7 linked regions of the Homo sapiens genome follow. The protein of the gene in region 1 purifies or fractionates together with the protein of each later gene. This does not show direct contact. Each region holds a gene or a part of one and is shown in the gene's direction. Other genes may lie near its edges.

The links.
Region 2: the proteins of ADA (region 1) and GPI fractionate together in Homo sapiens (co-fractionation; one large-scale study listed by BioGRID). This does not show direct contact.
Region 3: the proteins of ADA (region 1) and CLIC4 fractionate together in Homo sapiens (co-fractionation; one large-scale study listed by BioGRID). This does not show direct contact.
Region 4: the proteins of ADA (region 1) and ACP1 fractionate together in Homo sapiens (co-fractionation; one large-scale study listed by BioGRID). This does not show direct contact.
Region 5: the proteins of ADA (region 1) and APRT fractionate together in Homo sapiens (co-fractionation; one large-scale study listed by BioGRID). This does not show direct contact.
Region 6: the proteins of ADA (region 1) and ADORA2A purify together in Homo sapiens (affinity purification with western blotting, with the first as the bait; one study listed by BioGRID). This does not show direct contact.
Region 7: the proteins of ADA (region 1) and GLOD4 fractionate together in Homo sapiens (co-fractionation; one large-scale study listed by BioGRID). This does not show direct contact.

What each region holds. Positions count from the first base shown.
Region 1 is NC_000020.11:44,634,700-44,638,199, reverse strand, and holds part of ADA (adenosine deaminase), read left to right. Parts: intron 1-1,911; coding exon 1,912-1,973; intron 1,974-3,500.
Region 2 is NC_000019.10:34,396,196-34,399,554, forward strand, and holds part of GPI (glucose-6-phosphate isomerase), read left to right. Parts: intron 1-105; coding exon 106-235; intron 236-385; coding exon 386-462; intron 463-3,011; coding exon 3,012-3,140; intron 3,141-3,359. UniProt on the Homo sapiens protein: In the cytoplasm, catalyzes the conversion of glucose-6-phosphate to fructose-6-phosphate, the second step in glycolysis, and the reverse reaction during gluconeogenesis.
Region 3 is NC_000001.11:24,751,947-24,755,446, forward strand, and holds part of CLIC4 (chloride intracellular channel protein 4), read left to right. Parts: intron 1-3,500. UniProt on the Homo sapiens protein: In the soluble state, catalyzes glutaredoxin-like thiol disulfide exchange reactions with reduced glutathione as electron donor. Can insert into membranes and form voltage-dependent multi-ion conductive channels.
Region 4 is NC_000002.12:267,947-271,446, forward strand, and holds part of ACP1 (low molecular weight phosphotyrosine protein phosphatase), read left to right. Parts: intron 1-3,500. UniProt on the Homo sapiens protein: Acts on tyrosine phosphorylated proteins, low-MW aryl phosphates and natural and synthetic acyl phosphates with differences in substrate specificity between isoform 1 and isoform 2.
Region 5 is NC_000016.10:88,809,129-88,813,193, reverse strand, and holds APRT (adenine phosphoribosyltransferase), read left to right. Parts: upstream 1-1,265; 5' UTR 1,266-1,294; coding exon 1,295-1,374; intron 1,375-1,537; coding exon 1,538-1,644; intron 1,645-2,637; coding exon 2,638-2,771; intron 2,772-3,045; coding exon 3,046-3,124; intron 3,125-3,353; coding exon 3,354-3,496; 3' UTR 3,497-3,855; downstream 3,856-4,065. UniProt on the Homo sapiens protein: Catalyzes a salvage reaction resulting in the formation of AMP, that is energically less costly than de novo synthesis.
Region 6 is NC_000022.11:24,434,099-24,437,598, forward strand, and holds part of ADORA2A (adenosine receptor A2a), read left to right. Parts: intron 1-3,500. UniProt on the Homo sapiens protein: Receptor for adenosine. The activity of this receptor is mediated by G proteins which activate adenylyl cyclase.
Region 7 is NC_000017.11:772,281-775,780, reverse strand, and holds part of GLOD4 (glyoxalase domain-containing protein 4), read left to right. Parts: coding exon 1-6; intron 7-3,500.

The sequences.
Region 1 (3,500 bases):
AAGGACTGCCATTCTCCCCACTTAACAGATGAGGATGCCGAGGCACAGGAAGTGAAGTGACTTTCTCAGGGTCAAGCAGGGAGTGAGTGGAGGAGCCGAGATTCCAGCTCTAACCGCATGATGCTCTATACAGTGTGACTCCGGCTCTCTGGCTGGGCCCTCTCCATAGCCCTGTGAGGGTTAAGGATAGAAAACAGAGGCTCAGAGAGTTGAGGTCCCTTGCCTGAGGTCACACAGCTGGTTGGCCGTTCCCTGGGCTATAAGCTTCAGTATTCCCAATGCTGAGCATATTTTGAGAACCCGAGAAACAGACGTTTGGCTGGGTGGGAACTGAACTCATTTTGTCAGGGAATTCAACAACTAAGTTGGCCCTGAGACTGGGTGTGAAGACCGCTCTGTCCCCTGCCAGCTGGATGACCTCAGGAGAGATCTGATGACTCTGAGGTCCTGCTGATAGGACCTCTGGTGTCTCTGTTCCCTGCTGGCCTCCCCTGGGCCTGGGTTGGGTTTCCTCTGCAGGAGGCAGCTCATGTATGTGCTCCTAGACGCCCTTGGGCCAGCAGCTCCTTGGCTGTTCCTCCCTGAGCCAGGGCAGCCAACTTTCTTATCCAGCTCTCCATGCTCCCCACCCCAGCATGAGATGTCAGCTGAGAGTTTTCTGGATCTCCCCTAGCTAGGGGGAAAGCTTCCATCATTTGGAACAGGAACAGCAGGAACAGCAAAGTCCCTTTCCCCACCATCTCCCACTGCCTGCTGTGCTTCTCCTAACAGCTCATGGTAAACACCCTGACTGAGCGGCAGGGGCTGTTTCCTTTGGGCTATCCATGTCCACCTACACTGCCCTTTTTAATCCTTACAATTTTTCTTGGACACGGGGGCATAATATTCCATTGTTTTTCAGTTGAGGAAACTGAGGCTCAGAGAGGTCAAGTGTCTTGTCTGAGGTCACACAGCAGAACTGGGAGTCAAGCCAGATGGGCTGCCTCCAAGGATCCTACTCTTAAACTCTAGAGTACTAGAAAGATCTTCCGTTGCCTAATATTGATTCCTGATAGGCTATGCTTGAGTAGCATCTGCTTTTGAAAATGGAGCCTGGGTCGGTTGCGGTGGCACATACCTGTAATCCCAGCACTTTGGGAGGCTGAGGTGGGTGGACACCTGAGGTCAGGAGTTCGAGACTAGCCTGAGCAACATGGTGAAACCCTGTCTCTACTAAAAATACAAAAATTAACTGGGCGTGGTGGCACCTGCCTATAGTCCCAGCTACTCCGGAGGCTGAGGCACAAGAATTGCTTGAACCCAGGAGGTGGAGGTTGCAGTGAGAGGAGATCATGTCACTGCACTCCAGCCTGGGAGACAGAGCGAGACTCCATCCGTCTCAAAAAAAAGAAAACGAAAATGGATCCTGAATTTTGAAATATGCTGTGACTCTTCCCTAGTTTGGGACATCTGGGTCAATCCCTTTTGTTAAAGTAGTTTATTTAGTTGGCTGAGAGCGGGAGCTGCCTACGTGACCTGGAGCACAAGCTTTGGAATTGGGCTTGGGTTAGAATTCCGCCTCTGCCACTCACCAGCTGCGATTAAGAACAAAGATACTGGGTTGGGCTCCTGCCTCTATTACTTGCAATCTGTGTGGCCTTGGATGAGATATTTAACACCTCCGAACCTCAGTGTCCTCAATTGTGAAAGAGATCGAGATAACAGCTGAACCCACATCCCAGGAGCGGATTAAATGAGATAGTGCAGTACAGAGTTTACCGAAGTATATGGGGTCAGCAGCCAGCCAGTAAAATGGTGGCTAATGGTTATCATGATTAATGTTAACATTAAGCTCTGAAAGGTCCTTCGTGAACTCATAGGTATTTGTTCTCTCTCTCCCTTTCTCTCTCTCTTCCCCCTGCCCCCTTGCAGGTGGAACTGCATGTCCACCTAGACGGATCCATCAAGCCTGAAACCATCTTATACTATGGCAGGTAAGTCCATACAGAAGAGCCCTCTCTCCCTGGGATTTGAGTGGGGTCCCCAGCTCCACCCAGAGGCCCCTGGGGAATTCCAGGGTCACTGTTCCTTCCTGTCTCCCTGTGGGAATCAAGCCAGCTCCAGGCCAGAAGTGGGACTGTGAGGACATGGAGGCCTCAGCACTGAGCTGGAGACCCGCAGACCAACTCCTGAGCTTTCTGGGCCTCTGAGTCTTGTCCTCCTGGTGTCAGGTGAGCCAGGCCTGAGCCTGCTCTCCCCACCCACCCACATACGTGCATGAAGGTAGTTCCCAGGGCTGAATCCGTCTTTTTTTTTTTCTTTTGAGATAGAGTCTTGCTCTGTCGCCCAGGCTGGAGTGCAGTGGCATGATCTCGGCTCACTGCAACCTCCACCTCCTGGGTTCAAGTGATTCTCCTGCCTCAGCCTCCTGAGTAGCTGGGATTACAAGCACATGCCACCACATCCAGCTAATTTTTGTATTTTTAGCGGAGATGGGGTTTCACATGTTGGCCAGGCTGGTCTCGAACTCCTGACCTCAAGTGATCCACCCAGCTTGGCCTCCCACAGTGCTGGGATTACAGGCATGAGCCACTGTGCCTGGCTCCTGTCTTTTGACTTAACTGAGAGCCTATATATAGCAGGTGATGTGCTCACATGAGATGCCAGTACAATTTCTTGAGCATCTCCTAGAGCTGGGCTGGGCTTTATCAGCTCATTGAATTCCTCCACGCTTGGAAGAGGAGGATACGCTCTCTGCATTTTACTGAGGAGGGAATGGGCTCAGCCAAGACAGTTGTCCACGGTCACACAAATTAATAGCAGATCAAGAGTTGAACCCAAGGCTGTCTGACCCCTAAGGCTTTACTACATCATCAGGGTCATAACCTGCTAGGAGTCACGGAAAAGTGGCTCCCCAACTCTGGGCCTAAATCTCTGCATCTTCCAAGTGAGAACACACTTCCTGCCTCAGCTCTCAGAGATGCTAGGGGGCCAGAGGGTCCCCCTGTTCCCCAGCGAGGAAGGTTCTTCCCTTCCTACCCAGACCTCAAGGGCTCACAGCAGCTCCTCTCTTAGGACCAGCTTTTAAGGGCAGGGACTTTAAAGGCCAGTGGATCTGGATTCAAATTTGGACATATTATCTCCTGTCTGCGAACTTGGTCTCTATCAACTGAGGCTAAGAACAGGCCCTCCCTAGAGAGATGACCTAGGAGCTAGGGGCTCCTTGTCCACCCAGCCCTGCCCCCGCAGACCTGTGTTCCTCGGATGTTTGCACAACACTCATTTTGTTTGGAGCTGAAAGAACTCAGCCTCTCTGTCACAGTCTTGAAATTCAGCTCGGGACCCAAATTTGAACATTTCTGCTCCATAAGCCAGAATCCTGTTATTCAGAGGCCTGCCCTCATGGAGAGAATGAGGGATCCCGGGGGGTTGCCCCCAACTCTCGGGAGCATCTCCACCAACTCCCTGAGAGATTTCTGGTAAGTCCACTATTCTCCATCTTTTCGCACTTCCAGGGACCT
Region 2 (3,359 bases), on another chromosome or scaffold:
CCAAAGTGCTGGAATTACAGGCTTGAGCCACTGCGCTCAGCCTCTTTCTTTCTTTTTAAATGTTCTTTCATTTTGCCAAGAACTGGGTTTCTGTTCCTTTTCCAGGGCGACATGGAGTCCAATGGGAAATACATCACCAAATCTGGAACCCGTGTGGACCACCAGACAGGCCCCATTGTGTGGGGGGAGCCAGGGACCAATGGCCAGCATGCTTTTTACCAGCTCATCCACCAAGGTAGGCCCCTGTGGCCTGGGAAGGGTGATGTTGGGGGAGGGAAAGGATCTTCCAGAAGAGATATCTCACTTAGGTCAGTGCCCTCCTCTAGGCCATATGGCTAGCTCCCATGGGCTGGGGTCATGTGGGTGACCACAGTGCCCTTCACAGGCACCAAGATGATACCCTGTGACTTCCTCATCCCGGTCCAGACCCAGCACCCCATACGGAAGGGTCTGCATCACAAGGTAAGAGCCCCCATCTGGCCCCATCTGGGGGGTCTGGCTCACATTGCACCCAGACCTCTGAAAACCTGGTGCATTGGTTGGCAATCACGTTAGTTTTCTATTCCTGCCGTAACAAATGATAACAAACATGGAGGCTTAAAACAACACTCTTCTTTTGTGGGGTGGGGAGGGGGGACAGAGTCTTGCTCTGTCGCCCAGGCTGGAGTGCAGTGGCACGATCTTGGCTCACTGCAACCTTCCCCTCCCGGCCTCAAGTGATTCTTATGCCTCAGCCTCCCAAGTAGCTGGGACTACTGGCACTCACCACCATGGCCAGCTAATTTTTGTAGTTTTGGTAAAGGGGGGGTTTCACTATGTTGGCCAGGCTGGTCTTGAACTCATGACCTCAAGTAATCTACCTGCCTCGGCCTCCCTAAGTGCTGGGATTATAGGCATGAGCCACCTTCCTGGGCTATCTGAAGAGTTTCTGAAGCTCAAATATCCAGCAGGCCCTGATGTGTCTCTGCTTAGAGTCTTGCAGGCTGAAATCAAGGTGTCATCAGGACTGTGTTTCTTTCTGGAGACCTTAGGGGAAAAGCCTTTGACCTGCTTGTCAGGTGGTTGGCAGAATTCATTTCTCTATGGTTGTGGAACTGAAGTCCAGCTTCCTTGCTGTGGGCTGAAGGTCGTTCTCAGATTCTCAGAGGTCACCTGCATCCTCTAGCTTGTGGGCCTCTTCACTGCAGAACCAGCAATGGCAGGTTAAATCCTTCTCTGAAGCTTTGATTCTGTCTTGCCACTTCTGTTGCATCTCTCTGACTTGTTTACCTTCCTCTTCTACATTTTGCTTTTGTTCCCTAAGTGACAGTGTCATGCTGTGTTGTCTAGGCTGGACTTACAGTGGCATGATCACAGTTCACTGTATTCTCAACGTCCCAGGCTCAAGCAGTCTTCCTGCCTCGGCCCCTCAAATAGCTGAGACTTACAGGCACTAACAGGCACTTACAGGCACTTACAGGCACTAACAGCCTGGCTAACTGTTAAACTTTTTGTAGAGGCCAGATTTCACTATGTTGCCTAGGCTGGTCTCCAACTCCTGGGCTCAAGTGATTCTCCTGCCTCGGCCTCCCAAAGTTTTGGGATTACAGGCATGAGCTACCGTGCCTGGCCCTCTTTTACTTTTAAGGGCCAGTGTGATTAGATTGGGGCTACTAGATAATCCAGGAAAATCTCCCCTTTTGTTTATTTTATTTATTTATTTTATTTTAGAGATAGCATGTCACTCTGTTGCTGAGGCTGGAGTGCACTGGCCCAATCATAGCTCACTACAGCCTTGAACTCCTGGGCTCAAGCAATCCTTTTATCTCAGCCTCCTGAGTAGCTGGGACCACAGATGTACAACATGCCTGGCTAAGTTTTTTTTTTTTTTTAAAGAGACAGAGTCTTGCTCTGTTGCCCAGGCTGGGGTGCAGTGGCACAATCAGGCTCTCTGCAGCCTCACCCTCCTGGGCTCAAGCAATCCTCCTACCTCAGCCTCCTGAGTAGCTGGGAACAGGCACACGCCACCACACCCAGCTGATTTTTTTATTTTTATTTTTTGTAGAGATGGAGTCTCAGTATGTTGCCCAAGCTGCCCTCGAACTCCTTCAGAGAATTTACTGTGCTTTGTCTCAGGTGTGCAGAGCAGCACAGGGTTACGGTAGCACAATCTTGGGAGTCAGTGAGCTGGATTGAATTCTGATTGTTCCTGTCTATAGTTCTGTGATCCAGCACTGTGGACTTGTGGAACCCAAGGCTCTACTAGAACAGGGCGATGATGCCTTTCCTCCTTAGGATCTTAGTATTATTTTTTTTTCGAGACACCGTTTCACTTTGTTGCCCCGGCTGGAGTGCAGTAGTGTGACCTTGACTCACTGCAACCTCAGCCTCCTGGGTTCAAGTGATTCTCGTGCTTAAGCCTCCGGAGTAGCTGGAATTACAGTTGCACACCACCACGCCCAGCTACCTTCTTAGGATCTTAAAAGATAGATGTTGGTAAAATTGTGAGCAGGACCCCTAGCAAGTGGTGTGTAGTTCTTTTTTTTTTTTTGAGATGGAGTCTAGGTCTGTCGCCCAGGCTGGAGTGCAGTGGCGTGATCTTGGCTCACTGCACCCTCTGCCTCCCAGGTTCAGGTGATTCTCCTGCCTCAGCCTCCTGCCTGATGACAGGCATGCGCCACCATGCCCAGCTAAATTTTTTTTTGGTATTTTTAGTAGAGACGGGTTTCACCATGTTGGTCAGGCTGGTCTCGAGCTCCTGACCTCGTGGTCCATCCGCCTCGGCCTCCCAAAGTGTCGGGATTACAGGCGTGAGCCACCGCGCCTGGCCACTGGTGTGTAGTTCTTAAAGAGCAGTTATCACTGTTCCCTGCCTTGTGGTGTCATCGGATGTGTCCCCCTCGCTCCAACTGAGCTGTACAGCGAGTGACCCAGGCTGGGACTGACCCCTGCTGAGAAGTACCAGGCGGTCTTGTCCCTCTGCCTGAAGCCCAGACAGTGCTCTCAAGCATAACTGATGTCTCGCTCATCAGATCCTCCTGGCCAACTTCTTGGCCCAGACAGAGGCCCTGATGAGGGGAAAATCGACGGAGGAGGCCCGAAAGGAGCTCCAGGCTGCGGGCAAGAGTCCAGAGGACCTTGAGAGGCTGCTGCCACATAAGGTCAGCACTTCTGCATTTGGCTTTGGGGTGCATGCTGGAGTTGGAGGTGTGAAGCTATGGCACCAGGCAGGGGCTTGGGGCGTGCCTGGCTTGTCCTACAGAATGGGAGGGCCTGTCCTCACAGACCTGCACGTCTCAGCCTCTGGGGCAGGGTGTGCTTCCCTTCAAGGGGTTTAGGGATCAGGACTCTCTTGGAGACATTCCTTGGTGTTTTCTGCA
Region 3 (3,500 bases), on another chromosome or scaffold:
CCACTGTGAACTGGGATGATCACTGTCAGCAAGTAGTCACCAAGCTGCTGGGATTGGGGTGGTGTTTGTAAAAAGTTAATCTGGTGCAGGGTGGCATAACACATAAGAGTCTGTTTCTTTTGAGATATTTGGCAGAGGTTCCTAATGTGCTTGGACTCTGGAGCCACACTGCTTGACTTGAATCTGGCTTCTAGTATGTCAGGCAAGTTTTTAAGCTCTCAGTGCTTCAGTTTCCTAACTTCTAATATCAGGATAATAATAATAGCAATTTTATATGGTTACTGAGGGGATTAAAACTGTTAATCTGTGCATATTAGTTAGGGTAGTTTAAGTTGCTGTAATAAGTTATCCCCCCACAAACAGTGGTTCAAATATGATGGAAGTTTATTTCTCACCCCTCAGTCCAGGAGAATGTCTTAGATGTTAGGGTGGCTTTCCTCCTCAGAGTCATTAAGGGACCCGGGCTCTTTCTAGCTTATTTGTCCACTAACTCCCAGAGCATTGTCCTCTTCTGAATTGTCAAAGTTGGTGGGTGACAAGTACTGTCTGTTGCCAGTGGGGGGTGGAAAATATGGAGGAAGCACATCTTAAGGGCCCCAGCTCAGAAGTTCTACCTGTTACTTCCGGTCACATTCTATTGGAGAGAACTTAATCACATAGCTTCATCTGCAAGAGAGGCTGGCAAGTGTGGTCTAACCGTATACCATCCTATGTAAAGCTTTAGGAAGAGTGCTTGACACATAGTAAACACCTGCTTTTGTCATCGATAATAGTTTATTATTATTATTTTTTTTTGAGACGGAGTCTCGCTCTGTCGCCAGACTGGAATGCAGTGGTGCAATCTTGGCTCACTGCAACCTCTGCTTCCCGGGTTCAAGCGATTCTTCTGCCTCAGCCTCTGGAGTAGCTGGGACTACAGGCGCGTGCCACCATGCTCAGCTAATTTTTGTATTTTTAGTAGAGATGGGGTTTCACCGTGTTGGTCAGGATGGTCTCGATCTCCTGACCCCATGATCTGCCCGCCTTGGCCTCCCGAAGTGCTGGGATTACAGGCGTGAGCCACCGCGCCCAGCCTAATAGTATATTATTTTTAAATGTGGGCTCTATTAGTAGGATCAGGGAGTTCTGTAAATCCTTGAAATTACAGTAAAAAATTCTAATGTGAGGCTTTTTTTCTGGAAATTCCTAAACCAAGGCTAAGAACCACTGTTCTAAAAGAAGTAAATAGTGGAATTCTTAGAGTCAAGAATACTTTATATAAGCAAGGTATAAAAGAAGGGCTTGGGCTAGATGATCACAAAGGTCTCTTCTAGTTATTATTAACTATGACTTAAAGAATGTACCGGCATGAACTAAGTGCTAATACTGAGTTAAGTACTATGGAAGATATAAGAAATTATTAAACAGTTAATTTCTTTAGGTTTACAAATTTTATTGGAAAGAAAACAATACAAGATGGTCCATGCTTAAAGAGTCAAGTGGGGCTCACATTAAGTAGGGCTAGGAGACATGGGGAAAGATGGAAGGAGGCTTAAACTTGACCTTGAAAAAGGAGGTGAATAGGTGGGTTCGGAATAGCCAAGAATGGGAATGTGAGTTTTGACATTATGTGGAAACTCCTTATGCAGGAAACAATTGGTAGATTGATACCTAAGAAGGAACCAGGAGTGATTCAGATCTATAGTGCCAGGGAGACAAGTTATTTAAAAGTTGAGGATGAGACTTTTAAAACCTAACTTGGGTTTTTGTTAATGTATACATTTTCCTAACTTTTTTCATTCTCCCCACACTTTCCTGTGTTTTTGGATTGCTGTCTGTTTAATAACTTTTCAGTGGCACTTGGGAAGGTGCAAATGGATTGTACAGATGGACTGTTTTGACAGTTTAAAGTGGGAATTCTTTATATTGTTTCAAGGACAGGCTTCAAACTTCCCCCCGTCTTTGTTTTTTCTAACAGAAAAAAATGAAATAAATTTTCTATAGGAAATGATGCTGAAAACTGTTCTGGTAATTAACAAAAGCTAACTCAATATTCAGACAATATTACCTTGAATCTAATTGATTTGCCATTCATTTGAGGTTTCCGGGGGGAAAATTCAGGAGACAGAAATGAATGTAAAGTATGAAGTTAATGAAAACCTATTATTTTAACTTTTTGCCTGAGCTGTTCCTGAAGACCTAATAATGCTACTTTTGGCAAAGGCCAAATTTGATGATTTTGGTTTAATGTAAAAACCTGTGAGAAAGGAGCCTAGAATGGGGAAGAGGCAGGAGGCTTTGAGCCTAGGAGACTGAGCACACGAAAAGCTTAACAGAGTATGAATAATGATAGGAAAGAGGCAATTGGGAGAAGAACCTGGCTGTCAGGAAATGTCACAGTTGGTTTGGGAAGATGCCTGCAGAGGTGCCTAGAAGCCAGTAAGTAAGGATGGTGAGCCATCCTTTTCCGCTTCCTGTTTCGTTAGAGCTGTGGAGCCTCCGTGTTCTGATGTCCCCTGAGTAGGGAATTGTGAGTCCATAAAAGGAAAATGTGTTAGGCAGGATGGGAAGTGTGATTAAGGCATGAGTTAAGATTTTGGTCAAGTAGAGGAGTAAGCTAGGATGGGTTTGCCTGTTTTAGACGCTTGCATAGAGAATGGAAAGGGACTTTCTGAAGGAAAATGACATTAGGTCATGGTTACCTATTGTCCAAGGATGATTTAAGACATGTAAATGTAATTTAGGGCATCAGCTAGTGAATTTTCTCATGGCTTTTAATTATATTGTCTATTTCGAGACTTGCCTCTTATCTCTCAGTGGTCAGTTCCAGATATTGGTATAAGAAATAAGAAATAACAATGATAGGCCCACTGCCATGGCTCACACCTGTAATCCCAGCACTTTGGGAGACCGAGGTGGGTGGATCGCCTGAGGTCAGGAGTTCAAGGCCAGCCTGGCCAACATGGTGAATCCCTGTCTCTACTAAAAATACAAAAATTAGCTGGGCGTGGTGGTGGGCGCCTGTAATCCCAGCTACTCGGGAGGCTGAGGCAGGAGAATTGCTTTAACCTGGGAGGCGGAGGTTGCAGTGAGCTGAGATTGTGTTACTACACTCCAGCCTGGACGACAGAGTAAGACTCCGTCTCAAAAAAAAAAAAAAAATTATAGGCTGGGCAAAATAGTGAGTCCTCATCTCTATAAAAACTAAATTTTTGTATTTTTAGTAGAGATGGGGTTTCACCATGTTGGTCAGGCTTGTCTTGAACTCCTGACCTCATGATCTGCCCGCCTCGGCCTCCCAAAGTACTGGGATTACAGGCGTGAGCTACCACTCCTGGCCCCATCTCTACTAAAAATACAAAAATTAGCTAGGCATGATGGTGCACGCCTGTAATCCCAGCTACTCAGGAGGCTGAGGCAGGAGAATCTCTTGAACCCGGGAGGCGGAGGTTGCAGTGAGCTAAGATCACACCACTGCACTCCAGCCTGGGCGACAGTGAGACTCTGTCTCAAAAAAAAAA
Region 4 (3,500 bases), on another chromosome or scaffold:
GTACTCTACTTTTAGATTTTTTCCAACTACTCAACAATGTAAAAATTATTCTTACCGCTGTGGGCTGTACATAAAGGCAGTGGACCATGAGCCGATTTTCAGACCCCTGTTTTAGGTCCAGATCTTGGGAGGCCATGTGAAGACTTGGGCTTACTCTGAATAAACATTGGAGGGTTTTGAGCAGAGGTGGGAAGTGATCAAATTTAAGTTTAAAAAAGAAGAGTTTCAGCTGTTGTTTTGAGATGAAACTGGAGGTGGAGCATGCCTTTACTGGTTGCATTCTGAGGGAATTTGAGCGGTAAATGGCATTTTACTTGGTAGCCATATAGAGGACAGTAAGAGTTGTATGCTTTTGAAATGTAAAAAACTTTGTTCATTCAAAGCATTTGTTTGGACCCTATTGAGATTGAAGTGTAGAAAAGCATCAGAGGTTTTTCATTGGTGAAGCTAATGATGGAAAATAATTGAGCTCCTTACTACAGCACAATTATGAAGGGTGCTTTATGTTTTTGCAATAGAGACTTATTAGTGAAGATGATGCAGGAGCCATGACCCAGCCAGCATGGTTGGTGGAGATAGCACATGCTGGTGGAGTCACTTTACTTCTGGGCTACACCCATACTGGGTGCTGGGTCTCTTACCAGGTATAGCAGACACAGCCCCACCCTCCCAGAGCCTATCTGCCTTTTATGAGTCTCCATCCTTGAATTGAAGATGCTGAAGAAGGGTATAAAATAGTCTGCCTAATTTGGAAAAGACAAACTTGAGACTTTACAGATTGAAACATTTTTTAAAGGCATTTGAAGATGGAATGTTCTGTTTTTAGAACTTGTTTGATAGGCGAAACCTGAAGTACATGCAGTGTTTCACTGATGACCGGGGTGCTCCATTTTTTCATAACAAAATTTGGTGGCATCAACTTTCGAAATCAACAGGGCAAGCTACTGCTAGCCTTTAGGACAGTTAATAATGCAAGTTTTCATATTGTTGTGGGGAAAGTAAGCTGTTATTTTACAGTTAAAGATAATTATTTGTAAACGTGTGGGGCTAGTCTTTATTATATTTTTAGATGCTGAGATACTAGGCATCTGTTGTTCTACAGATCCAAAATAATAATTGTCTTAATTTGGAATACAATGTTTGCTGTTAAAAATATTCCCAGGGTATATGGTGACAAGTAAAAGAGTTACACACCCATGGGAAGCCTTTCAATAATTAAAATAGTGCTGATGACAATACCTGTTTAGAAAACTAAACAAAATTTAGAATGTCGAAAGGAAAAACTTCACAACACAAATTAGCATATAGAGGGTATTCAAGGCTAATTTGTTGTCTTTCCCTTTATGGTTTGTAGGTAAGATTTTTTACTGCTGTGGAAACTACAGTCTCTGTGGGAAAAAAGTACGTAATATGCTTAGGTCTTACAATGTAGAAACTGAAGGCTGTAGTAAGGCAGTGAGTTGGTTTTCTGAACTAGGGAATTAGCTGTGTTTTACAACACTAGAAGATCCTCATTGTATTTGTTTATCATAAACAGAAGACCCTAATAGTGATAAAGAGTAAACTCTTAGTTAGTGCTGCCTATTCTCACAGTTCCTCTTTTTCGTATCTGTTTCCTAAATTCAGCTCCTAATGTCTGGACTCAGTGTGGTGCTTTGGCATTAAGGAGACTGGAAGGCCTCAGAGCAGCCCCAGAAGCAAGGTCGTAGAAACCATCATTTATCTTCCCCAGCGCAGATCATAGAAACTAGAACTCCTCTCCTGCAAAGCAAGCCATAAAACCTAGAAAGATCACTCTCTCCCTTTTGCCTTCTCTTGAAGACAGCATTTCAGAGGGGCCCTGCCTCATTCCTGGGGGAGGAAATGCTGTGGCCCTGCTGGGTTTCCCTCAGTCTGCTACCATTGGATCATTTCCTTTTGTCCAGTGCCATTTCTACACAGCTGTGCATTGGTCATCTAAGCATCAAAACCGTTTCCCTGGGTCTTTGGGTCTTCATTTCTGAAGGCTCTTGTTAACCTGTCTTTTGTTACAGGAGTATCTTCCATGACCTTTATGATGGGTGAGGAAAGCTGCCACACCTTTCCACTCTGACACTGTCTTGTATTTGCTCCTTCATACGAGCCTCTTACAAGGTCTCTCCAATTCAGTCATGTGCTCTTCTAGTGTTTCCTTAGCTGTGCCGGTAATTTTGGTAACTTGTAGGAAGGGTCTGTGTTTTAAACAACTTTCTGTCTTCAGGTTAGGGCACAGTGCTTGGCACATAGAGTTGGCATACAAAATATGTTTGTTGAATAAGTCATATTACCCTTTTCCATAGGACTTTCTATTTCTCCTCATAGTGGCTACGCAAAGTTCAAATGTTGGCCCAGTGTTTTAGGGCTCCTGTATACCAGCCCGTCAGTTTCCAGACACTGGCTCTCTGTACCTGAAGCATCGCAGCCTCACCTGCTTAGTGCCACAATCCCTCTGAGTTAAATGCCTTTCCCTTCCTCTGTCCATTAAGATCCTGATCATCCTTTTAATATCATCTCTAATCTTTCTTTTTTCTGGTAAGAAATTTTCTTATATCTTGTTTTTGCTTTGTAGCATCGTTCTTTTTCTGTGCTGCTGTAGTGTATTGTTTATCAGCATTCATTTTCCCACTTTTATTATAATAAATATAATAAATAAAGTGGAGATAGAGTTCAGCTGAATGGCCAGTGATTCAACCCATTGTGTCTCCCTCCGAAAACCCCAATAAAACCTCAGAGCACTATGGCTCTGAGGAGCTTCCTGGGTTGGCAGTGCTCTTTGAATATTGTCTCATGTTGATGACAGGAGAGTAAGGTGTCCCAGAGGACAGTGGAGCTACCTGTTAGGGAACCTCCCAGAATGTGCCCTATAGGTCACTTGCTTTGGCTGTTTTGTTTGTTTGTTTGTTTTTGTTTTTGTTGCTGTTACTATAATGAAATTGTAATGGTAAGTGTTCTGCTTTCCTGAGTTTGGGGAGTAATTCTAGGGAATTATCAAACCTGAGGGAGCCCTGGGGAACCTGGATTTCTCACTTGCTGGTCTAAAGTAAGGATGGCCCTGATGTCGACATCGTGGTCTGGAGAGTGGTGTCCCTGACCTTGGGCTGCTAATGCCTGGATCTGTATCCCTGGGCTCAGGGCTTTGCATGTGATCGCTCAGTAAATGTTGGTGTTGAATCGCTGTTTATGCTTAAATGCATGTTTGTGTGTTTGTGTATTGTTTTGTGAAACAGTAGTCATCCTTATGTGTGATATACTTGAAAATACATACAGTTGACCCTTCAGCCACAGGGGTTTGAACTTTGAAGGATTTATTCGAGGAATTTTTTTAATCAAGCACAGATGGAAAATACCGTGTTGTCTGAATGAGAAACCCATCTGTATGGAGGGCTGACTTTTCCTATACTTGGGCTCCACATTCTCAGGGGCCAACTATAGGACCTGAGTATGCACGTTTTGGTATACTGGGTAGGGGTGGGAGGGTGTCC
Region 5 (4,065 bases), on another chromosome or scaffold:
CATCAGACGATGGGTCCCCCACCCGCCCTGGAACCGGGGCCCCAGCAGCCGCATGCAGCCTCCGGCCTCCCCCTCCGAAGGCTCCTGGGGGCTGCCTTCCACTGAGTGGGTTTTCCCTTCTGCAGTAACTGCCAGGCCAAAGCTGAATTGTAAAAGTTGCGAAATGATGGGCCGGGCGCGGTGGCTCACGCCTGTAATCCCGGCACTTTGGGAGGCCGAAGCGGGCAGATCACGGGGTCAGGAGATCGAGACCATCCTGGCTAACACAGTGAAACTGCGTCTCTACTAAAAATACAAAAAATTAGCAGGGCGTGGTGGCGGGCTCCTGTAGTCCCAGCTACTCGGGAGGCTGAGGCGGGAGAATGGCCGGAACCCAGGAGGTGGAGCTTGCAGTGAGCCCAGATGGCGCCACTGTGCTCCATCCTGGGCGACAGAGCGAGAGTCCTTCTCAAAAAAAAGTTGCGAAATGAAGAAAAGTCTTGGAATAGAGCACAAGGCATTTTAGCTCTGGGGATTTTCTTGAAAGGAAATTGTGTTTGGGGGGAGTTATGCCTCACACAACCCCCTGGGTACCAGTCCTCGGGCGGCCAGGGGGTTCACAGCTCCCCACCCCAAGGCTAAGGGGTCACCTGGCCTCTGCAGGCGGACAGAAGGGCTTCTGCCCTCGCGGATGCGCGCCCTGGCCTGGCCACACCTTCCGGCCTCCCTCCCCCGGGTCCGGGCGGGGAAGAGCCGCCTCAACGGCAGGGCCCATCCGCGAGAGGCCAGCGCCCCCGGCCGGTCCAGCCCAGGCCCGCCGCCTCCGCCCTGGGCTGCTCCCTCCGGGCCCTGCACCGCCCTCCTGCTACTTGGACCGCTTCCTCACGCCCTTCTCCACCCCGCGCGCCAGCCTCCCGCGCGCAGCGTGGGGATCTCGGCCAATAAAGGAGAAAGGGCGCGGCCCGTACGCGCGCCAGGTGCGTGGGCGAGACCAGCTCACGCCCCTCCTCCAGCCGCCAAGGCCCCGGCCCACAGCTGCCTGGCTGCAGTCAGAAGCGTAGCCCGAGACAAGGAAGGGCGCCTTGACTCGCACTTTTGTCCGGTTCGAACGTTCTGCTCAGTGGTGCGTGGAATGCGAGCGCGTCTTAAAATCGATGGCGCCTAGGAGTCCATGAAATACGGTACAGGCTTCCGGCGACGGATGCCCCGCCCCTCACCCACGCTCCGCCCTCCGGGGATGCCCCACCCCTCGTGGCGGTCCCGCCCGTCCCCGCGCAGGCGCGCTCGGGCTGCCGCTGGCTCTTCGCACGCGGCCATGGCCGACTCCGAGCTGCAGCTGGTTGAGCAGCGGATCCGCAGCTTCCCCGACTTCCCCACCCCAGGCGTGGTATTCAGGTGCACGCACAGGCCGCCCTCGTGGCGCCCCGACCTGCGGGCCTACGGATGGGAGCGCGTGGCCCGCGACCTCCGGGCGGGCGGGGCGGGAACCCTCGTCTTTCGCCCCCGGGGCCCTGCCCTCCTTCGGCCCCGGCGTCACCAGGCCTGTCCTTGGGTCCAGGGACATCTCGCCCGTCCTGAAGGACCCCGCCTCCTTCCGCGCCGCCATCGGCCTCCTGGCGCGACACCTGAAGGCGACCCACGGGGGCCGCATCGACTACATCGCAGGCGAGTGCCCAGTGGCCGCATCTAGGGCGCTTCCGCCTCTGCGCGCGCCGAGGGCAGCACGTGGGCTCTGCGCGTCTGCTTGGGGGAGGGCCTTTGGGGTGCTTCAGGGGGCGCCGGGACGGGCGCCGTGCTTGGGTCGCCCGGGAAGGGTTGTGAGATTGAGCCCCCGAGGCCGCCGCGCTGTGCAGGCGTCCTTCCCGCAGGTTCCGGGTCCCCAGCCCAGGACAGGCGTGACCGAGTTGCCGGGTCAGTTGGTCTCCCTGGAGTGCCCAAGCTGAATCCACAGGGCCCAGCTGCCTTGCTTCTTGTTCCTTCTGCGAGCTGGTATTGAGCGCCTGCCACGAGCCAGGCCTTCCCTGGTGAAGATCACGGAATGCCCACCCAGGGAAGGGAGGCCTGGAGGCCTCCGGGAGAGCCCAAGAGGTGGCCCAGGGAGAACAGAGTGTTCCTGGCCGTCTTGCCTCTCCTAGGGTGTGACAGCCCACTCCCTGGACACTGCCCTGAGGAAAGCGCCAGCTCTTGCTGGAGCCACAACACTGCCAGAGCTCCCTTCTCACCTCCTGCAGGAAGCCCTCCCTGACCTCCTGCCAGGCCGGGGCAGGGTTTCCCTGAGCGTCCCCCAACCATCACAGCTCAGGCCACCTCGAGAGACTCCCTTTTTAGACAGAAGCCCTGGTGCAGAGCTGCCTTTGAGAGTAAGCTGAGGCCTGTCAGGTTTCTACCAGCCCAGTTACAGATGGGCTGCTCAGCTCAGAGAGAGGGGTGGTGACTCCCCTAGGAACACACAGCTAAGAAGTGGTCCCTTAAAAGACAGACCCAGGTCTGCACTCTGACCTGGAAGCAGCTCCGGGTAGGTGATGGGTAACATTCCTTAAATGGTGCATGTCACTGGCCTTTCAGCTGGGAGCCAACCAGGTACCCCTTGCCACCGGCCAACCCTGGCCCCTGGGGATTCCCATGCTGCCGAGTCACTCCTGTCACTTACCCTGACAGGCCTAGACTCCCGAGGCTTCCTCTTTGGCCCCTCCCTGGCCCAGGAGCTTGGACTGGGCTGCGTGCTCATCCGAAAGCGGGGGAAGCTGCCAGGCCCCACTCTGTGGGCCTCCTATTCCCTGGAGTACGGGAAGGTAAGAGGGCTGGGGTGGCCAGAGGAAGGGCAGGGCCAGGCCACCGTGGCCACTCTCCCCCAGTTCTAAAAGGCCTTCCCAGGCGTGTCAAGTGGAGCTGCTGTGGTTACAGTGGCCTTGGGAGCTCAGAGAGGTTGAGACATAGGCTGGGCTCACACAGCCAGGTAACAGCAAGGTGGGGTTGGAGTCAGGGTCTAGGGTGGCAGCTGCCAAGCTGTGCAACAAAGCTGTTTTCTGCGGGAGGCTGAGGACCACACACCACTTCCCACTCCAGGCTGAGCTGGAGATTCAGAAAGACGCCCTGGAGCCAGGACAGAGGGTGGTCGTCGTGGATGATCTGCTGGCCACTGGTGGTAAGGGTCTCCCCGCAGCCAACTGCTGTGGCTCCAAGGGCCTGGTGGGAGTGGGACAGGACCTCGCTGTGTGACATGGGATGCAGCTTACTGTTGTCCAGAGGGTGCCTGGTGGCCAGGCCGACACCTTCCTCTCCCCATGCCTTCCCCTCCCCAACCCAGGGGCTGGCCTGGAGCACCTGCTCTCTGCAGCCCAGGCCAACTGGGGACCTCACCCTCCCATCCCCAGGAACCATGAACGCTGCCTGTGAGCTGCTGGGCCGCCTGCAGGCTGAGGTCCTGGAGTGCGTGAGCCTGGTGGAGCTGACCTCGCTTAAGGGCAGGGAGAAGCTGGCACCTGTACCCTTCTTCTCTCTCCTGCAGTATGAGTGACCACAGGGCCTCCCAGCCCAACATCTCCAGCTGGATCCCAGGGAAATATCAGCCTTGGGCAACTGCAGTGACCAGGGGCACCGGCTGCCCACAGGGAACACATTCCTTTGCTGGGGTTCAGCGCCTCTCCTGGGGCTGGAAGTGCCAAAGCCTGGGGCAAAGCTGTGTTTCAGCCACACTGAACCCAATTACACACAGCGGGAGAACGCAGTAAACAGCTTTCCCACAAGAGCCGTCTCCTGTCCTCCTGTTCCCCAGGGCAGGGAGCCCCAGGACAACACCAGACTTCAGCTGTACTGTGGGCATGTGCTGCTTGGCGTGATGCCCAGCAGAACCTGTCCTGGTTCTCACCTCAGGAGCTAGAACCCTCCAGGCACTGCAGGAAGAGGCCATGTGGGCCCATCTTCTAGGGGAGCAAGCGAGGGCTCTTCTGCAGATCTAGTGGCTGTAAGCATGACTTTATTAGAGTTTAGGAGGTCAGAAATACTGAAGTCAAGGTGTGGGCAGAGGCCAGTCCCTTCTGGAGGCTCCAGGGATGTCCTACTTGTCCTGCCCAGCTTCTCCAGGCT
Region 6 (3,500 bases), on another chromosome or scaffold:
TGGGCCATTCCTCACACACAAGCAAAACTTCCCGGATGATGCTGGGGTGGAGTGGGGAGCCAGGGGAAACCATAGGACCTCAGAGTTAGGAGCCGCCCGCCACCTGCCTTCCCCCAGATCCTCTGGGCCAGCCTTGCAGTGTGCACATTAGGAAAATGACCCAGAGAGGGGAAGTGACTTGGTTGAATGCCACAGTGAGTCACTTGGACCTATATGCAAATTCTGTTGCTCCTCAAGTCACCAAGGACTCATCGTCTTAGAGGCAGCCAGTGTGCTCAGGGGCTGGCTGTTGGAGGGGATTTTTATGGTGAATCTTTTGTGAAGTGACTTCAGCCAAGTAATTGTGCAAATGAAGATTTTCCCAGAGGCTGAATTACTCGGCATGGATTCCACCTACCCAGGCCATAGATGAGGCTAGAAAGTGCATCCCTCCCTTGGGGACGTCAGAGGCCTTCTGCCCCACCTCCTGGCCCCTCTGCCACAGAGCTGGGTTCCACAGCCTGGGTGGTTGTGGGCCCTGAGGCCATGTATGAGGCTTGAGGTGGTGCCTCTTGAGAGTCAGGGAGCAGGGTGCACCATCTCTGCGGTGAATTATCTGAAACTGGTGGGTGCCTATCTAAAGAGGAAGCCACAGCAGGTTGAGGGTGCCCCAGCAGGAAGGAGGACCCAGCTAGATGAGCAAATGGAAATTTAGAGCGTCAAAGCCAAGGGGCCCTTAGAGGTCATTTCCTCTCATCTTCGGGATGGAAAATGAGCCTCAGAGAAGACAGCCAGCTGTTTCCGGGCCACACAACGAGTTGGTAGTGGAGCTGGGGCGAGTCCTGGAAAGAAATGTGGCCTGATCCCCACTGTGACTTCAGTCACTGGGGAGCGGTCATGAGCAGCCTGTCTCGCAGAGCCTGCACCAGGTGGCTGTCCCTGTCACCTGGGCTCTAAGTGGGAGCAGGAGCTGCACTGGGCTGCTCCAGGGAAGGGGAGGAATCTGGACCTCACACTGCCCTGTCAGATGCTCTCTATCCCAGGAGAGTCTAGAACCCTCGGCAAAGGAGAAGGGGACCCTGGCCAGCCCTGAGAGGGGTGGAATTAGGGATTGTCGGACTCCAAGTGCAGTCTCTGGTGAGCCTCCATCCATTGCTCTGCGACGGGCAGAGCAGAGTTTAGGTTCGTCCAGTGGCAGCTCAGAACACGGAGGCCCAGGAGGGGCCCTGTCTGCAGGTGCCCAGGTGGGCCAGAGAACAAAGCACTGGAGGGGACTTCAGGGAACCAAGCTGAGTCTGCACACTGATGGGATGCTCTATGGGGAAGCAGAGGCCAAGCTCTCACTTTTTTCTCTGATTCAAAGGGTATGATCAGGGCTGCCGTTCTCAATTTAAAGGAGCTCGACTTTTTTTCTCTTTTGTCTCTCCCTTTCCTTCTCTGTTTTCTGAGAGTTGAGAGAATGACTCCCTATGTAGTAGGACAGGATGTGCTGTGTGGCTATGGAAAGTTAGCTGCCTCTCTCTGGGCCCATTTCCTCATCCATAAAATAGGACAAGTCTCTCTGCCCCTCTGAGCTCACAAAGGTGTTCTGAAGGTCCAGTGAGTGGATGGGGTGACAGGGACCCTGAGGAGGGTTGGAGGCGTGGGGAGGGTGGGGATTCAGATCTTTGGGTTCAGAGCCATGGACCTGCCCCCTATCCTCTACCCATCTCATCCCAACTTCCTTGGAGCTGGACCTTAGTTCCACCCAGACCTTGAGCCATTTGACTCTGCTCCATGAGGCTCTGCAAGGCTTAGGCTGGTCTCTTCTGCAGGGGGCCCTGGAGAGGATGACGACGATGATGTTCATCCTCCCTTGAGGGCAGAGAGCTTTGCAGTTGCCAAAGGATGTCAGCTCAGCATCTCCTGTCATCCTCTTGGCCTGCATTGTGGCCAGGCGGATGTTCTGACCCTCCTGTTACTCACAAACTCATGGGGAGGCCAGAGCAGGGAAGGACATACGAGTGTCTCCTGATGTGGATGGACTCCAGGGCCCTTCAGGCTGTTCCTGGCCCGCAGGTCCCTTCGCTTTCCTGTTCCTCAGGGCCCCTGGGCCTCTGGGCATGTGGAGGTGTCCATGTGGGCTCCCGAGAGCAAGCGGGGTATGAAAGGAACTTGGTGACACTCCTGGCCGGCGCTGGAGTCACAGCCTGCCTCAGGATCCTCCCTCCTCCTTTCTCAGCTGGGAATCCAGCCTCCTCTACGTGCCGTTTCCTGCTCCACTCAGAAAGGTCCATTCGGCTAGCCCTGGGTCTAGCCTCAGGCCTGCCCCACTCTCCATTAACTTTTTTTTTAAAAAAAAGAACTCAGTTTTGGAAAAATCTGTTATTTTCCAAGTTCAGGGAACCTGTTGGGCTAGCACAGGGCCTAGTCGAGGAACTCTGTGAGAAAGACTTCAGGCCAGAGGCAGAGATGTAGCTCTCTGTGTTCCCAGAGGATAGGGAATTCAGGGTGAGAGACACAGGCTTCTTTTTCCAGTTCCCAGGGGATTTTTGCCTCACTGTCCCCTCCCTGGCTCTCACAGCAGCCCTTGGTGGATGTTCTCGCTGGTTTGAGGAACAGGCCAAGGTGCAGGTGGCAGCTGGTGGTGAGGCCCGAAGTCCTAACACTTCTAAGAGGGCAGGATTGGGAGAGAGGGCTCCCTGGAGGAGGTGTCACCCAGTGGGTCTTGCAGGACGGGCAGGCAGGGTCTCACTGGCATGAGTGTGGGGGCAGGTGTGTCAGGAGGGGGGCAAAGCCTGGGACAAGACCCTGAGGAAGGAATGAGCATGTGAGCACTGGGTAGGGAAGGGTGGCCTGGCTGCCTAGTGACAGAGAGAGATGAACAGAGTGGGCAGGAAAGGTGGAGGCCAAGTCAGGCCTGTTCGTACCAGGGGAAGGAATGGAGGTTTCCCTGTGGGTCCATGGCTCTTCAATTCTTGGATCAATGACTCCTTTGGACAACTTAGGAAGGCTCCACCTACTCCTCAGGTTGGGACATGTGCACATAAAGCCCCAGCTGGAATCATGGGGCATATTCTTGGACCATAGGGTGAGCCCCCAGTGTGGGTAATGGAGATCCCCAGAAAGGGGCAGCCTGCAAGCCGGGGGACACAGAGCTGCAGAGGGCACCTCCACAAAGGGTGGGCAGCAGCTCTGGGACCCACATTCTCTGACATGCCTGGGCACCCCAGAGTGGTGGTGTGTCACGCTAGACAGCCTTGGCATCCCTTCCAGCTGGATGGTCAATGTTTGGGGTCTAAGACGGCAAGATGTGAGTGTGTTGGTCACAGATGCAGCCCAGGATATGCTGCTGGGCCTGGCTGAGGCTCAGCTGTGATTCCATTTGGGCCCTGATGCTGTCCCCACCCCGTGGGCACCAGGGTCCAGGGCTCTCAGCCTATGGAGATTTCTTTTGAATAAACTTAGTCTATTTGCAATTTAAGAAAAAAAAAAGTCATGTTTTGCCCACTCTAAAACATTAAAAAGGAACAAAAGAGTAT
Region 7 (3,500 bases), on another chromosome or scaffold:
AGTCAGGTAATTATACCAGAACCAGTAAAAGCCTCTGTCTAAAGGCATCTTTGGTGAAAGGAGAGTGAGGGCTGCCTGTCTTTTTTTTGTAGAGTCTGTGTTCACGTGACGTGTCTTCCCCAGCCAGTGCTTTTACCTGTTATCGGAGAGACTACATTCTCATATCAGAACTTAAATACATAGCAGTAGGGGATCTAGACTAGTTCTGTTCTACTGGTAATGTAGTGATTTATGATTCTTTCATCTGTAAATAACAGAAAACCCAACTACTTTGAACAGTTATAGAATCTTTTAGCTCACAGAGCAGGCATTCTATAGGTGGGAAAGATTTCAAGGTTAGATGATTCACCAGCTCCCCACATTTTCTCTTTCTACGTTCTGTTGTTCTCTGCGGGTACCTCTCCTAGAACTAGTCCCCTCAAGGTTGCAGGAGAGCTGCCAGGAGCAGGTGGGGCCACATGCTCCCACAATCCCATCTGGTAGGAGAGGAGATGCTGACTTCTTTTTGCTTTTTTTTTTTGAGACTCTGTCAGTCCGGCTGGAGTGTACTGGCATGATCTCTGCTCACTGCAACCTCTGCCTCCCGGGTTCAAGCAATTCTCCTTCCTCAGCCTCCCAAGTAGCTGGGATTATAGGCGCCTGCCACCACGCTCAGCTTTTTTTTTTTTTTTTTTAGTATTTTTATTAACTTTTAAAAATTATTTGTTTTTTGAGACGGAGTCTTGCTCTGTCGCCCAGGCTAGAGTGCAGTGCTGCAATCTCGGCTCACTTGCAACCTCCGCCTCCCAGGTTCAAGTGATTCTCCTGCCTCAGCCTCTCCAGTAGCTGAGATTACAGGCACATGCCACCACGCCCAGCTCATTTTTGTATTTTTAGTAGAGACAGGGTTTCACTATATTGTCCAGGCTGGTCTTGAACTTCTGACCTCACTTGATCCGCCTGCCTCAGCCTCCCAAAGTGCTGGGGTGACAGGCGTGAACCACCGTGCCCGGCCCTTTTTGCTTTCTTTTTAGGAGCAGAAGAAAAACTTTCCTAGAATCTTCCAGCAAACTTCCTGTTCAGATTTGATATACTGTGCCTGCTCCTAAACCAATCACTGGCAAGAGAAATAGGATCACCCCCAAACCATTTAGCCATGCCTCCTCTGGAGCCGAGGTCAGTTTCCCAGACTTGAGCGTGGGTACTCAGGGATGGCATGGAAGTGAGGAGCCCCCACGCTGACTGCCACACAGAACAAGAAGGAAACTTTGCAGGGTTTGTTTTGTTGACTGCAGAGGCAGCCTCATCAGTGTTTCATTTTGTATTTAATGCCTGCAAATTCAGCTACCTGCTCTGACAAAACAAAAGCAAAAACGGGGAAAATGCTGGCGAATGGCAAGGGCACTTGTGCCGACTCCCTTACTTGGTGAACGTATGCCTGCAAGTGGGCCTGAGAAGGGAGTCCTGGAAATTCTCCTTCTTCACTGGTCGGCCTCCTGTCCCCGATGCCCCCATGCTGAGTCTGTAGAATGTTCAGTGCTCCTTGTTTATCATCCGGTGCTCAGCAAAAGAAAGATCCGTCTGTTCCAGTGTGGGAGGCTAGACTTGGCTGTGTGGGACTCGTGGAGAGATGGTGTTTCTCTGCCTCACTGGTGATTTAAAGGGTGTTGATGGTGTTTTTTTGTTGATAGGTGATTGATCCTTTGCTGACTTTAAAACTTAACGCTTGCAGCTAGCTCCACCATCCATTTTTTCTCTCCAGCCTTAGTGATATTTCAGTGCTTAAAATAATAGAGAGCCCCATGGTGCTAAGAAGCTTTTGTTCTTTGGAATGGAAATCCCCTTGGGCATTTCTGGTTGACAATGTGGTCAGACCTTCTGTCCGGCTGGCATTCATCTTTCCTTTGAATTACCCACTTCTGTGCAGCTTCACCCACGCGTTAACTTCCTGTCCTGCGTCCCTTCAGGCTCCAAGTCAACTGGGATTTGTTGATTTTGAAGTAAATGGAAAGAAAAAAATGGAGCCTGCCAGGCGGAGGCACTTGTGAGAAACAGCGTCTTAATCCCAATATTGCTGTTCTAGCAAACAGGACTAAGGCAGTAAAGCCAAAGAAAAATGTACTGAATTTATCGTAGTCAGATGGAGACGTGGAACAGCTCTTTAGAAAGTCACTTTACAATGTGAAAAGTTTCCAGTAACAGTAGGTGTTTCAATATGACTTTTATTCTTTTTACAAAATAATCAAGTTTTTTCCTTAGACAAGCAGAGAAGCTGAAAAAAAACACACACACCCATGTACCCAGAGAGAACCACTGCTGACATTTTAGAGTATATCTTTCCAATCTTTTGTCAAAAATACGTATATATAATTAAGTGTATACATTTCTGTATATCCTTTTTTAGGAGTTCCATCGTATTATTACATTGTAGGAAGAGAAACAATTCTCTATTGTTGGATATTTATGTCGTTCCTAGTGTTTTATTGTTCTAAGCAACACTGGTGAATGTCTTTGTCGTAAAAGCCCTTCATACATCCACAATTACCTTTGGAGTGGCTGAAAATGGACTTGTTCTTTCAAAAGCAATGAGCACTTTTTAAAGCTTTTGGTACATTCCATCAAACTATTGCCCAGAAATGTACTGATTTACACTTGTATTACATGATTGTGATTTTCCCCTCTACACTAACACAGTTAACACTGCCAACTTTTAACATTATTTGCACATTAGTTAACAAAGGATTTTATGTGAATTCTAATTTCTTTGTTGTTTGGGGGCGTCGGGTTGAAATTTTTTTTTTTTTTTTGAGACAGAGTCTCGCTCTGTCGCCCAGGCTAGAGTGCAGTGGCGCGCTCTGGGCTCACTGCAAGCTCCGCCTCCCGGGTTCACGCCATTCTCCTGCCTCAGCCTCCTGAGTAGCTGGGACCACAGGCGCCCGCCAGCACGCCCGGCTAATTTTTTGTATTTTTAGTAGAGACGGGGTTTCACCGTGTTAGCCAGGATGGTCTCTATCTCCTGACCTCATGATCCTGCCACCTCAGCCTCCCAAAGTGCTGGGATTACAGGCGTGAGCCACCGCGCCCGGCCTGAATATTTTTTCGTATGTTATTTGACCATTCTAATTCCTTGTTTTGTGGATTATTGCTTTGTGCCTTTTGCCTATTTTTCTAGCATGTTCATTCTTTTCCTATTGATATTTACAGGTGATTTACATATTAAGGACTTTTTGTCCAATATATTGCAGTTGTTCCCCCTACTGTGTTGTATACTCTAGTTTTGATTGTAATTCCTTTTCTTGGTTGTTGTCTAGGAGTTTTCCATTTTGTGTAATTTATGTAGCAGAAGTTTTTTCTTCATAGTTTTTCTATCTTTGGTGTCAGGTTTAAAGAAAAATCTTCCTCTACTCCAAAATTGTATAAATAATCATCTGTATCTAGTATTTTCATGGTTTCATTCTCTAAACTTATTTTTTTAACCCATCAGGAATGTATTTTGTCATTTATTTCGAAGATGTAAGTTT